Linked DNA regions of Homo sapiens. Changing the gene in region 3 together with the main gene of any one other region gives a genetic interaction. Each region holds a gene or a part of one and is shown on either strand. Other genes may lie near its edges.

Region 1 (3,500 bases), on a different chromosome or scaffold from region 3:
TAGAATGGTAAGTTTCTTTTTGTATGCTGAGTTGACTGATAGCTTGGCAACTTCTAGGTAGTTTCTGCATGGGTGCTGGTCACCTGAAAGATCAAGGCAAGATGAGAGGATTAGGACTTTTAGCCCCACCTCCTCCAAACTCCAGGGAGGGAAAAGGTGCTAAGGGTTAAGGTGACCACCAAAGGTCAATGATTTAACCAACTGTGCCTCTGTAATGAAGCCTCCATAAAAGCCCATAAATGACTGGGTTCAGAGAGCTTCCAGATAGCTGAGGCACAGTGTAGCCAGGGGAGGGCATGGAAGCTCCGCGGCCCTTACTTCTCCTACGCACCTCCTCATCCATATCCTTTATAATAAACTCTTGAACCTAAGTGTTGGCCGGGTACAGTGGCTCATGCCTGTCTGTAATCCCAGCACTTTGGGAGGCTGAGGTGGGTCGATCGCTTGAAGTCAAGAATTCGAGACCAGCCTGACCAACATGATGAAACCCCATCTCTACCAAAAATATAAAAAATTAGCCAGGTGTGGTGGCGCATGCCTATAATCCCAGCTACTTGGGAGGCCGAGGCAGAAGAATCGCTTGAACCAGAGCGATAGAGGTTGCAGCAAGCCTAGATCGTGCCACTGCACTCCAGCCTGGGTGACAGAGCCAAGACTCCGGCTCCAAAAAAAAAAAACCCTAAGTATTTCCGAGAGTTCTACATAAGCCACTCTAGCAAGTTAACTGAACAAAAGAAGGGGGTATTAGGAACTCAATTTATAGTCAGTTGGTCAGAAACACAGGTAAAACCACCTGGGACTTGAGATTAGCATTGGAAGTGGGGGACTGTCTATGGGACTTGAGCTTTCAACCTGTGGGATCTGATGCTATCTTCAGGTACACCGTGTCAGAATAATACTGAATTAGAGGATACCCATGTGGTGTCCACTGCTGAATAGCTTGCTTGATGCGCAGGGGAAAACCCCACACATCTGGTGGTGTGAGAATATACTGGAAGAAAGTTTATGTTCTCAGAATCAACAAAAAATTATCCTACATGGTTGCAACGTATTCAACATTTCAGGAATTTCCCTGTAACAACTGTAACACAGTTAAGCAACAGGTATGCTGGAGGTTAGTTAATGCTGTGTTTTCCAGAATTAAAGATATAAATGCATTTCTCAAATATATACACTACATTCCTTTAAATCACTGTGGGTGCGACGGCTTACGCCTATAATCCCAGCACTTTGGGAGGCTGAGATGAGTGGATCACAAGGTCAGGAGTTCGAGACCAGCCTGACCAACATGGTGAACCAGATCTCTACTAAAAAGACAAAAATTACCCAGCCGTGGTGGCACGCGCCTGTAATCCCAGCTACTCGGGAGGCTGAGGGAGGAGAATCACTTGAACCTGGGAGGCGGACGTTGCAGTGAGCCGAGATCACACCACTGCTCTCAAGCCTGGGCAACAGAGCAAGACTCCATCTTAAAAAACAAACAAACAAACGAAAAAACTCAACAAATGGCTTCATATTAAGTCTACACCTCTAATTACTGCCTTCTCAAACTACGCTTTCCAGTGAACAATGCTTTATTTGGTTTGCTACATTCTTGCAAATTTGAGTGAAAAGTACACTTAAAAAAAAAAAGTATCATAGGCCAGTATGGTGGCTCACATCTGTAATCACGGCACTCTGGGAGGTCTTGGTGGACAGATCGCTTGAGCCCAGGAGTTCCAGACCAGCCTGGGAAACACAGTGAAACCTCACCTCTACCAAAAAAATACAAAAATTAGGCCAGGCGCAGTGGCTCACACCTGTAATCCCAGAACTTTGGGAAGCTGAGGCAGGTAGATCACTTGAGGTCAGGAGTTCAAGACCAGATGGCCAACATGGTAAAACCCCATCTCTACTAAAAATACAGGCCTGGGCAGTGGCTCACGCCTGTAATCACAGCACTTTGGGAGGCCGAGGCAGGTGGATCACCTGAGGTCAGGAGTTCGAGACCAGCCTGACTAACGTGGTGAAACCCTGTCTCTACTAAATACAAAAAATTAGCCGGGCATGGCGGCGTGCGCCTGTAATCCCAGCTATTCAGGAGGCTGAGGCAGGAGAATCACTTGAACCCAGGAGCCGGAGGTTGCACTGAGCAGAGATCACACTATTGCACTCCAGCCTGGGCAACAAGAGCAAAACCCTGTTTTAAAAAAACATATATATATAAAATTAGCCAGGCATGATGGCGCGCACCTGTAATCCCAGCTACTTGGGAAGCTGAGGCAGGAGAATCACTTGAACCCGGGAGGCAGAAGTTGCAGCAAGCCAAGATCATACCACTGCACTCCAGCCTGAGGGAGAAGAGCAAAACTCTCTCTCAAAAAAAAAAGAAAAAAAACAATTTTTGACACGTGTGGTTAGCATGCACCTGTAGTCCCAGCTACTCAGGGGCTGAGGTGAGAGACTGACCTGAGACCAGAATATCAAGGCTGCAGTGAGCAGGGATTGTGCCGCTGCACTCCAGCCTAGGCATTGAAGTGAAACCCTGTCTCAAAAAAAAAAAAAAAAAAAACTATTGTATACACTGGGGGGCAGAAGGTGTTGAGCCCCTTTTAACTTTCAAAGATTCATCTTTAAAATTGTGAGCAAACAGAAAAGGAATTGCTAGATTCTTCTATATATAGAGTCACTCAATGGGATGCCATTTTGAAACTTCACAGCAGGAAGTTTTAGTTTGGTCAGAGGGTCATTAAAGAAATGCCTCAGTTAATATATATGACTTGAAAGTCTTTTCTTTTATAAAAGTATATACCAAGTTCAGGCCGGGTGCTATGGCTCACGCCTGTAATCCCAGCACTTCGGGAGACTGAGGCAGGCAGATCACCTGAGGTCAGGAATTCGAGACCAGCCTGGCCAATACGTTGAAACCTCTTCTCTACTAAAAATACAAAAACTAGCTGGCTGTGGTGGCAGGCACCTGTAATCCAGCTACTCAGAAGGCTGAGGCAGAAGAATCGCTTGAACCTGCGAGGCAGGGGTTGCAGTGAGCCAAGATTCCACCATTGCACTCCAGCCTGGGCAACAGAGCGAGACTGCGTCTCAAAAAAAAAAAAAAAAAAAAAAAAAGATATACCAAGTTCATAAAATACAGCATTTCAAAATGGCAGACTACTAGGCTGGGCACGGTCACTCATGCCTGTAATCCCAGCACTTTGGGAGGCCGACGCGGGTGGATCACGAGGTCAAGAGTTCGAGACCAGCCTGACCAACATAGTGAAACCCCGTCTCTACCAAAAATACAAAAATTAGCTGGGTGCAGTGGTGCGCGCCTGTAATCCCAGCTACTTGGGAGGCTGGGGCAGGAGAATCGCTTGAACCCAGGAGGCGGAGGTTGTAGTGAGCTGAGATCGCACCACTGCATTCCAGCCTGGGCAACAGGGTGAGACTCCGTCTCAAAAAAAAAAAGGCAGACTACTATTTTTGTTAATGTGGGACAAAATACTCATAACAAATATTTTGCA
Region 2 (3,500 bases), on a different chromosome or scaffold from region 3:
AAGAACCCCAAGGGTCCCTTCAATCTTCTCCTTGGGTGGGGGCTTCACCTCCTTCTCGACATCTGGCTTCTCAGGGGATGGACTGCCCTTCCCCTCACAGGGCATAGTAGGGGAGAACAACTGAGAGAAAGGTGAGAAAGCAGAACATGAGAAGAAGGAAAGTGGATGAGGGGGCAAAAAAACATGCCAAAAGCAGGCATAATGGGAAGATCCAAGGATCCAGATTCTGCCACGCTCAGGATTGAACTTACTGAGAAATCAGGCTTCTCCATGTCCTCAAAGAGAACACTGGAACTAGGGTCAATGTCCATAGATTCTGAGAGCCCTGGATCCTGAGGGCATAGAACATAAGCGAAGTTGCTTTAGCCCTAGGGAGTGGCTCCCACCATCTGTAAAACTTCATTGGGGAAGTGGAGAGAGAAGACCAGATTGGGGAAAGCACAGGATCTGGAGTCAAGCCTCATCCAATCACTTAACCAGTATAGGCCTCTGTTTTCTTCAGTTTGAAAATGGGGATAAGAGTACCTCACAAGGCTGATGGGAGGAACCAATGAAACAATTGATGTGAGAGTGCTTGGTCAATCACCAAGTGCTAAGAAAAATACTACCCCCCTCCCCCAGGCAAAAGAGGCTCTTAGAGGCCCCTGGGAGCCATGAAGATGGAAATGTCAGAAGAAACGATCTAGTGCAAGGAAAAGCCCACTCACTTCCAGCTTGCTGCTGCTGCTGCCTTCAGCCTCCTTGTGCTCTGGGTCATCGGCAGGATCATCAAAGGGAGAGGGAGGCCGGGGACCAGGGGCTCCAAAGGCAAGGTCCCCTCGGGAGATGAGAGTGCAAGTATACATGTTGTGGGAGAAAACATCATGTCGAATCAGTTCACAGAACAGCAGTACTAAGTTAAAGAATTCCACCCGCTCACTCTCACTTCGAGGGTCCGCTGGAGGAAGGGAATGAGGAAACATAAGTTAGGAGAACACAAAAAGGTGGGCCAAAAGAGAGAGGGACACACCTAAGGCAATAATAAGAGTGATCAAATAGAAATCCCAGAAATTGTTGAGGGACAAAGTGTGGTTGGTTACCCCACATGCTGTCCCACACATCATCTCAGAAAGGAATGTAACATCTTTGTTGCGATTTATGCAGTGAAAATGCTTCAATCACAAGCTCTTGTTTTTATCCTTCTCTGTATTTCTCTACTCTGTTTAACTGTAAGATGACCAGTTAAAGAGGATCACTAGAACTACATCTAAAAGTCATTCTGCATAGAGCCCAAGAGAGAAATATAGACCAGAGGGCTGTTAATTATGCTTTCTGATGACAGTGGTGGGTAACTGAGTCTAGGCAGAGGTAACTAGAGAGTGGTAGGGGTCCGTACTCAGCATGGGAGCCTGTGTATCCAGAAACTGCAGGAGGACATCCTGGAAAATGGGAGCACTGGGAGCAGAAAGGGAGCCAGAGGCGATGGAACCCTTCTCATCTGCGGCTTCTGATTCTCCACAACGCTGCAAGATGACAGAACAAATTGTAGAACTGACTTTTACCTGCTTCTTCACTCCTCAATGTGTAGGCCTTAAACTACCACCTGCTTGACCTCTACCCCATGCTTTTCACTTTCATTCCCCTGCTGACCTCCATGTTCTTTACCACCTCCCAACTGAAGCCTTGATGTTATCTCTAACTCTTACTACAATCCACTCTTCTCTACTTTCGCCTCACGTCCGTAACTTTGCCTTTAGGTTCTCTTTTGCTTCTTTACTCTGTTCTCACACCTTCAACTCTGGTCCCTCCACCACCTCCATCTCTCGGTCTCCAACCGCAGTAAATTCCTTCCCATTGGCCAATCTTGTTCTCTTATCTCTGCCCTCTAACCTCAGCCTCAATCTCCGCCTGTCTCTTCTCCAGGAGCTTGGCTACCACCATAGCACGATGCCGACCAGAACGCTTGCAGCTGACAGCCCATTCACATAGCAATGACACCACAGCATCATCATCTGAGGAGATCTGGAGAACAAAGGAAGAGAAGGAGGAGTAAGGTAGGGGTGGGGACAAAGAAATGAGTTCCAATTTCCTAAAGACTGGGCTCTATCATAAAACATCCTGGGCCCAGTAAGATCATTTCTGCAGATATGCTCTGCTTTCAATGCCTCACCATGACTTCCCTCTCAGACATATTATTGCTCTTGCAATGTTTTTTGCTCCTTCTATTCCCCTTTTCGCTTACCTCATGCCCATCCTTGCTAGGTCCCAATCCAAAGATTCGGTTACAAAGGGAGTCAAGAGAGTTGCTGAAGTCAGAGCGTTCAAAACTATGGCTGTCCAGCACTTCCAAAGTATGAAGTACCCGTCCAATGGTGAAGCCTAAGGAGGAAAAGTGGTAAAGGGGACTGAACCAGAGGCCCGGTGCATTCTGGCTCTTAGATCTACATGTCCTTACTATCCCCATCCTTTCCTCAAACATATTTCCTATTATCTGTTCTCTGACACATACCTGCAGTAGCTTCCTGGCATTTATCGAAAGACCAGCGAACTTCAACTGCCTGTCCCCGCTCCTTGATCTGCTGCTCGATCTCCCGCAACTTTGCACGGACCTGCAATGTTAAAAAGGAAGGCTACAAGGATGTACCAAGGCATATAAAAGGCCAGAGCCCCAGGCTAGAAGAATAGTACTAGACTCCAAATCACTACTTCTGAAAGAGTAATTTAGCCTCATAGCCCAATCTGAGAGTACCAGGCTAGTGGTCAGACATACCTGCTGAGTGAAGGCACTGTTACCCTCTGGCATGGGCAGGTTGGACGGGGCAATAGGCAAGTGGTCAAGTGGTGAGCCGGTCTTAATTCTGCTATCAGTCAGTGAGTAGTGCCAAACCAAGGCACTAGGACAGCACAGGAGGATGGTCTACCAGATAGAAACAGCTAAGTCCAACTCATTCACCATGGTTACCCCTCTGGAATCCCATTCTAAGACCCAACCCGTAGATTCCAGATCCAAAGTTATTCTGACTGGGTCCCCAAGACAGGCATCACTCCACCCCGATCCCCTCCCTTCACTCACTTTCCTAAAAGGCTTTGGGCCCACTATTTAGCCTTGGAAGGGAGAGAGAGGCTGGTGAAAACCCCCAAAGGGGACTAACACCCCATTACCAAGAAACAACAACCTCCAAGCAAGTACTCAGCACCTACTCCCACATCCAATTTGGAATTACCCCTATTCTCTGGGATGGGCACCTGATTCTTCTCAGGCTATCTCTCAATGCTTCCTTGGGCCCGCCTAGTACCTACCTGTAGGATACAGCTGAGGCCAAAAACCAGGGGCCGGTGCTGAGGGCACATAAGCAGGTCACTAAAGGGAGTCGAGGGTGTGCTGCTAGTTGGGGGCTGAGGAGCAGGGGTGGTGGGTAGCGTGCTTGTTGACTGAGCAGATATAACATGAGATGAGTGACTGCTCACACCATCCAGCTGCAGGGCCAGTCTCCGTGTACAGAAGTAGGCAAGCCGGCGGG
Region 3 (3,500 bases):
GACTACACTGACCATGTGCCAGGCAGTTCTGGGTGTGGGTGGCAAACCAGACAATGGGACAGAGTCCCCACAGGGCTCATCTCCACAAGGGGACAGGAGACAAATAGTCTTAAAAATTAATTATGGAAAGTAATGCTCAGAAGAAAAATAGAGTGATAGGATCAAGGGACCAAGGAGATGCCTCTAGCTAAGGGTGCCCGGCAAAGCCCCTCCCTGAAAGACAGGGAGCTGAGATGACGACAATGAGATGCAAGTCATGTGACAGTGTGGGAGAGCGTCTGCCAGGAGCAAGGAGCACAATCAAGCCCCAAGGCTCGGCCCTTTTGAGAGAGAAGGGCAGGTGCAGGTGCAGGTGAGGGAAGGGAGCGAGGAGGAGGTAGCTGCAGAGATGGCGGGTGCGGGCCGGAGGGGAGGACCCTGGATTCTATTCTGATGACAGCAGAAAGCCTCAAGCAGTTGTTAAGGACGGGGCTGATCTGATTTATGCCTTCAACTGGAAGACAGTCTACATGGGTGCCAGGAGGCCAGTTCAGATGATGGTAGTGCCTCAAGTCAGAGGCAGAAGTGAGGGAGGTGGGTAGGCTCAGGAGTTGGGACAACAGGATTTGGTGGATTGTGGGTTATGTAGGGTGGGGGTCGGGGGTGCTGTGAAGGAAAGAGAAATCAGGGCGACTTCTGGACATGAGAAGAGACCGAGGGAACAGGACTAGAAAACAGCCTATGGCCCCTGCAGCACCTGTCCCCTGTGTTGGGCACACTGTATGACCCCAAGCCTCACCTGAGGTCCCCAAACCACAGTTCATGGAAACCGGGCACATGTGAGCTATACCTGGACTGGGTCCACGGTGTCCCTCACCACACACAGGATGTCAAAGCGTGAGATGATGGGCTCTGTGAGGTCCACGTTCTCAGAGAAAGTCAGCGAGGGGTCGTAGCGCCCTCCTGAAACACAGGGGAGCACCTCCATCAGGGTGGATTCCCCTATCCTCCCATCTCAGGGACCCCAGGCTGCTCTGATGGCAGAAGGGGATGAGGGCAGTGGAAGAGGAAGACATAGGTGGGTACTTAGCACCTGCTGTCTGAGACAGCAAAGAGCTTACCCTAACCAGGGCCCAAAATAGCCTAATTTAGACAGAAAGCATAACTGCTTCCCCAGGAGGAAAAACCAAGAACACAGTGGGTGACAGAGCCTGGGTTCTTTTACGCATTCGCTGCTGAGACCAACAGCCAACTCCATCCTGGCCAGAGGGGCACTGGGCTCTCCTCCCATGCCTTCTGAGAACATCCAAGGTGATTCCAGGAACATGACTCAACAGGAAACCCAGGTGTCCCAGGTCCCACTTTCACTGTTCCCCACTCTGGCAGGATATGCAGAAGAGGGGAACCCTCTGCTGCACAATGACTTCCTCAGATCGGCTCCTGGGGACCCCGTGGGCTCCCAATTCAAGCAGGCGGGACCTCCCTGTGTCCCACCCCAGCCCCAGCAGTCAGGGTGCCTGCTGCACCTATGGGGTTGGCGGCAGCAATGACCGTGCAGCGAGCCTGCAGGGAGGTGACGATGCCAGCCTTCGAGATGGAGATGCTCTGTTGCTCCATGGCCTCATGGATGCTGGTTCTGTCCTGGTCATTCATCTGCAAGATTAAAATGGCCCACCCTTAGCATGGTTCACGCCCCTACTACTAAGTCTCCGATGAGGTCCCAATGGACCCCATTAACACCATTCCCGTCGCTAAGGCCCAAGCCCACACACACCCCCTGAGTTCCACCAGCCTCCGTGACCCAGGGACCCACCTTGTCAAATTCATCAATGAGACACACTCCTCGGTCAGCCAGAACCAGGGCCCCAGCCTCCAAGGTCCACTCCCTGCTGACAGGGTGCCGCTGGACATACGCCGTGAGGCCCACAGCCGACGCCCCCTGGCCAGTGGTGAAGATGGCTCGGCTGGACACTTTCTCAATATACTTGAGAAACTGCGACTTCGCTGTGCCAGGGTCTCCGCACAAGAGCACGTTGATATCACCACGTACCTTGTGCTTGCCACCTGGAGGGGATGAGTAGAAGCGGGGGAGGGGGAGAGTGGGAAGTGAGAGGAGGAGGGCACAGTTGCATCCCCCACCAATTCCTCAACCTACTTGTTAGGAATGGTAAGGCACAGTCCCTCTAGAAAGGGATACAATGCCCTACGCCATGCAGTCCCACTCTGGGCACTCCCAGGGAAACACACACGGGTGCAGAGGAGGGTTGCACGAGATGTCCTTGGCGAATGTGAAATATCAGAAACAATCTAAGTGTTCTCCAAAGGGAGAGCTAAATAAACTGCGTTATCTGGTGGCATGATAGTCATTTAAAAGAAGGCAATTGCTCTGTATGCACTAACAAGAAAAGATGCTGCAGTGTGGCACTGAGCGGGAGAGCTCGGTGGGATGCACTGCGCACAGGCACAGCACTGGGCACACACAGGGGACGCTGCGCTTGTACAAATAAACACGTGTAGTCATGAAACCCTGTGGTTGCTGTGTAATTGTAAATGGCCACAAAGGGAGGGACTAGGAAGAGAAGTGGGGGTCAATGGGGAAATCAGCCTCACCCATGACTTTTAGTGTTCTATAAAAGTGTAATATAAATACAAACTCATGTGTCAATAGTATTTTTGTACTTAAAACAGGTTTTTAAAAGACAAAGTATTTTTTACATAGAAGAGAAGCAAAGACTCATTTGCTTAAATCACAAAAGCAGGCAGACACTGGCTCCCTGACCAACAGCCCAACACCCAGAATGCCCAACTCAGGGCCACCCTCTCCCTTGAAGAATGAGTCACGCCCAGCCAGACCATCTTTTAATGCATTCTTTCTCCCCAGCACCCAGGCTTTAAAAACACTGTGTCCTTCTTTGAATGCTGGCTCCCCAAAGAGAAAGCTGCTAACACCCCTGCAGAGGAAAGGTGGGTGCTCACCTGGGTTTTTGGGCTCCCCTCCGAACAGGGCCAGAGCCAGGCCTCTCTTGATGTCTTCATGACCATAGATGGAAGGAGCAATGCTGGCAAAGATCTGAGAAAGGGAGGGAGACCGACAAGAATGGGAACAGATACTCACAGAGTAGGTCACCCACATGCTCTGGCATCAGGGAACCACGACATCCCCAGCTCAAAGACACCCACTTCCACAGCTGCTGCAACTGCATCAGGCCCTGGTATCAAGCCGTGCCCGACTCTAAAGCTTTTCATTAGTTGGCTCTTCCCAAGAGTCACAGAACTTTGGAGTTTAGAAGAACCTTCATCTGAACCCCTAATCTTGACATATTTCAGAAAGGCCTTTCCCAAGATCACAGACCAAGAGCAGAAATAAGACCAGAACCAGGTCTGTCATGGCACTGGCCTACCTCAAGCCTCAGTTTCTTCATATGGAAAAGAGAGATGGCAACATCCAACTCACAGAAGGGTGGGTACAAATGCGACAGTTCATGCAAGTGCCTGCCTCGTCAATGCAATAAATGTGGCAC
Region 4 (3,500 bases), on a different chromosome or scaffold from region 3:
GCCACTGCGCCCAGCAAGAAAACTGCTTTTAAATGTGCCATTTTCAACAAGCTTTCACTTTTACAATGTCTGATCTTTGTATGTTATCTCTCCTCCTGTGAAGCTGGCAGGGTATACAGTAGTACCCTCATTTTACACAGCAGAAAAGGGGATGCTGAGGGCTGGAAGCCAGCTGCTGAAGGACATAGTCAAGGCCCTAGGCAAGTAGTGGTGTCAGGTTTGGAATTAAGGTTGTCTGTTGATTATATCTGTAAATAACTGGGATGGAGAAGGGACTCCAAGAGGGACTCCCTGTTCCTCAAGGTGGAAAAATCAAGCCCAAACTAGACAAGGTACTTGTTCGGTATCTCAGCCAGCAGCCTCACTCAGCAGGCAACAGGGTGGTACCACACTTGCCTTGCTCATTTCCTTTGGAGCATCTGGTAACACTCCAGAACCGTATTTTGCATTCAGCTGGGCCAAGATGGCAGCTTGAACAGCTGGGTCTCTGGACTGAGAGAGAAAATAAGTTGTTTTAGAGATTGCTTGACACTCACAGAGTCCTACTGCCAGATTCTTTCCCACCTACCAAACTAACATCACAAGCACCACAGCCGACCCATCAGCAGCTAGTGGGGTTTTCCTCAAAGCAGCAAAAAAAAAAAAAAAAAAGGCAATTACAAGCTTGAAAGCCAAGCCCAGCCCAGCCAGGCCCTAGCTAAGGGACACATTACTAATGTCTGCTGCACTGTAAACCCACCCTGATACAGGAGGATCAGTCACTAGGTTTTTATAAATCCATGCCACGTTTTCACTACCGATATGTCCTATAGCAAGATAAAAAAGGAAGTATCCAGACCCAAGAGCTTCAGACAAGCAAATCCCAGCTAAGAAAACATTATTTTTAACTTCATTATTAATTTCCTAATGGAATTCATTTTGTGTCCTAGAATCTAGGTCCTGACTAAAATGTCCTCTTTCAGCACTCACATTAGAAACGATGGTAGGCTTGCACTGCCGCCGAGTAAAGGGATCCATCTGTTGGTTTTTCATGTTGTGACTTTCAGCCTGAAACAGAAAGCATGCACCACAGAACTGCACCTCCAGCCCCTCCTCTCATTCACCATAAGCTCACAGGCAAATAAGTCTTTGCACGGGACTGAAAAAAAAAAAAGCTATTATCCTTTTCCTTTTTTTTTTTTTTTAATTTTTTTTGAGATGGAGTCTCGCCCTGTCGCCTAGGCTGAAGTGCAGTGACGCAATCTCAGCTCATTGCATCTGCTGCCTCTCAGGTTCAAGTGATTCTCCTGCCTCAGCCTCTCCAGCAGCTGGGACTATAGGTGCAAGCCACCAAACCCAGCTAATTTTTGTATTTTTAGTAGAGACAGGGTTTCGCCATGTTGGCCAGGCTGCTCTCAAACTCCTGACCTCAGGTGATCCACCCACCTCAGCCTCCCAAAGTGCTGGGATTACAGGCGTGAGCCACCATGCCCGGCTAATTTTTTTTATTTTTTAAATGGATTCTCGCTCTCTTGCCCAGGCTAAAGTGCAGTGGCACGACAGCTCACTGCAATCTCCACATCCCAGGTTCAAGTGATTCTCGTGCCTCAGCCTCCCAAGTAGCTGGGATTACAGGCGTGCACCACCATGTCCGGCTCATTTTTGTATTTTTAGGAGAGACAGGGTTTTGTCATGCTGGCCAGGCTGGTTTCAAACTCCTGACCCCAGGTGATCCACCCGCCTCGGCCTCCCAAAGTGCTGGGATTACAGGCGTGAGACACCGCGCCCGGCATATTATCCTTTTCCCTTCAAGAATACCAGAGTAGATATGGGGGAAACAACCAAGAAACAGAAATTGAGAAAAAACAAATACCTGTGGAGTAGAATCTAAGGGTGGGAAGAGGTAGGACAGGGCAGAAGACTGCTGCTTTTCATTATGAATAAATTATATCGATGTACGTGGACATACAGAGAGAGTGTGTATACGTTAAGTGCCTACGTTATTTCAATAATTAAAAAATAAACTTAGGCAAGATGTAGAAAAGATGTCATGGTTTATTAATTAACTTTGTTTTAGTGATTCAGATAAAGTTTTCTTACCACAAGGGCCTTCTCAGACTCTACAATGTTCCACTCCCGGTTCCGCTGGTTGATGTAACTGTGGGGTAAGAGGGATGAGTCAGTGGCTGTGAAACAAGGGAGGGAGGGAACCACTGAGCCCTGAACTCAGATATCTATGGGGTCAGTGCAGCACAGAGTGTACAGGCCACAGGCTTGCCTGATAATTTTGGCCAAGGTCTGCGGGCCAAAAATAGGCTCCATAACACACCTGATAGCGGATATGTTCTTGGTCCGCTGGCGGTCCAGGGCCTCTGCCCGTTCCTCCAGCTCATTCAGTTGATCTTGGATTTGTTTGGCCTTGTCCTGATCCCCCAGGTCCTCAGCCATGGCCTACACATAGAGAGATGTGTGAGTTCGTTCTTGGCTACATACAACTGACTCCATATCAAGTATCCCCTTACTTCCAGCACAGGCAAAGATATCTCATGTGGTGAGCAAAGGACAGGAGATGTGGAAGAATACTGTAGAAGTACTTTACAAATACAAGATATAATTTATATTATAGTAGTGCACAGTACAGTGGGGAACACCTTCCCATACAGCTACCTGGCTGTGGGTCCCTGGTGGCAGTAGAACCCCAGGCCTCACAGGGTGGCTAAACCACCATAACAAGGCCCACCCCAACCCAGTGTGAAGAATGGAAAATCACCAGCCACAGGTGGCCTTGACAGTGTCATCTGTCTGTTCAGACTCAGTGTTAAATACCACCCCAGGGTCTATTTTATTACAAAGGAAACTGAAGTGACTAGAAAGTAAGAAGACTGGCACACACGCAGAAGATGAGTTTGAATTTAGGGAATGGAAAATGGCCAAGGAACGTTGCCCAGGTGCCAAGAACACACTGTGTTGCTTATAATCGAGCCCAGAATTTTCTCCCAATCCTACCACCACTAACTTGGCAGAGGATGAACAAGTTTGATTTCCACATCTCCTTACAGGATGAGGAAAGAGGCTCGAGTACAACTCCTTACCTTTTCCTTCAGTAGCTGAGTCTTCTTCATAGCGTAGTTGGGTGGAGCTTTTCTGAACCTTTCTTTCTCTTTTACAATCTGTACCAGAGAGGAGATACCAGCAGTGAGGTATTCCTAAGCTATTTTTGTAGACAGGCTAAGTGAGCCCATTTTGGATGCAAACAGCTAGTTACAAAGGGGCTGCTCTTCCTACAGCAGTGTCATGCCCCAGAGAGAGAGAGAGCGGGTTCATTCCAAGGGATACTATGCTGCTTCCTGGGTCACGGAGATTCTTCTGGGACAGGCTGAAGGAACATGCACCAAGAAACAGCAGCCCAAGGGCCTGGTAGTGTAAGGCTAGCCACTGTCCAAGAGAACAGAGATCAAATAATTTTACCAAGATGTTTTAGAAAAGGAAAACTCTTGAAGGATCAAGCCTAGCAGAATACA

What was found. A genetic interaction does not mean that the proteins touch.
Region 1: changes in MCM2 (region 3) and CNOT1 together harm fitness more than expected from each alone (negative genetic interaction), as found in Homo sapiens cells (one large-scale study listed by BioGRID).
Region 2: changes in MCM2 (region 3) and MED12 together harm fitness less than expected from each alone (positive genetic interaction), as found in Homo sapiens cells (one large-scale study listed by BioGRID).
Region 4: changes in MCM2 (region 3) and RTF1 together harm fitness less than expected from each alone (positive genetic interaction), as found in Homo sapiens cells (one large-scale study listed by BioGRID).

The regions. Positions count from the first base shown.
Region 1 is NC_000016.10:58,623,327-58,626,826, forward strand, and holds part of CNOT1 (CCR4-NOT transcription complex subunit 1), read right to left. Parts: intron 1-3,500.
Region 2 is NC_000023.11:71,121,596-71,125,095, reverse strand, and holds part of MED12 (mediator of RNA polymerase II transcription subunit 12), read right to left. Parts: coding exon 3,280-3,500; intron 2,897-3,279; coding exon 2,750-2,896; intron 2,589-2,749; coding exon 2,489-2,588; intron 2,359-2,488; coding exon 2,222-2,358; intron 2,002-2,221; coding exon 1,870-2,001; intron 1,503-1,869; coding exon 1,376-1,502; intron 938-1,375; coding exon 708-937; intron 333-707; coding exon 252-332; intron 121-251; coding exon 1-120. UniProt on the Homo sapiens protein: Component of the Mediator complex, a coactivator involved in the regulated transcription of nearly all RNA polymerase II-dependent genes.
Region 3 is NC_000003.12:127,615,411-127,618,910, reverse strand, and holds part of MCM2 (DNA replication licensing factor MCM2), read right to left. Parts: intron 3,050-3,500; coding exon 2,956-3,049; intron 2,044-2,955; coding exon 1,793-2,043; intron 1,633-1,792; coding exon 1,506-1,632; intron 943-1,505; coding exon 830-942; intron 1-829. UniProt on the Homo sapiens protein: Acts as a component of the MCM2-7 complex (MCM complex) which is the replicative helicase essential for 'once per cell cycle' DNA replication initiation and elongation in eukaryotic cells.
Region 4 is NC_000015.10:41,476,095-41,479,594, reverse strand, and holds part of RTF1 (RNA polymerase-associated protein RTF1 homolog), read right to left. Parts: intron 3,150-3,500; coding exon 3,072-3,149; intron 2,431-3,071; coding exon 2,309-2,430; intron 2,138-2,308; coding exon 2,080-2,137; intron 1,048-2,079; coding exon 970-1,047; intron 493-969; coding exon 397-492; intron 169-396; exon of another isoform or gene 104-168; intron 1-103. UniProt on the Homo sapiens protein: Component of the PAF1 complex (PAF1C) which has multiple functions during transcription by RNA polymerase II and is implicated in regulation of development and maintenance of embryonic stem cell pluripotency.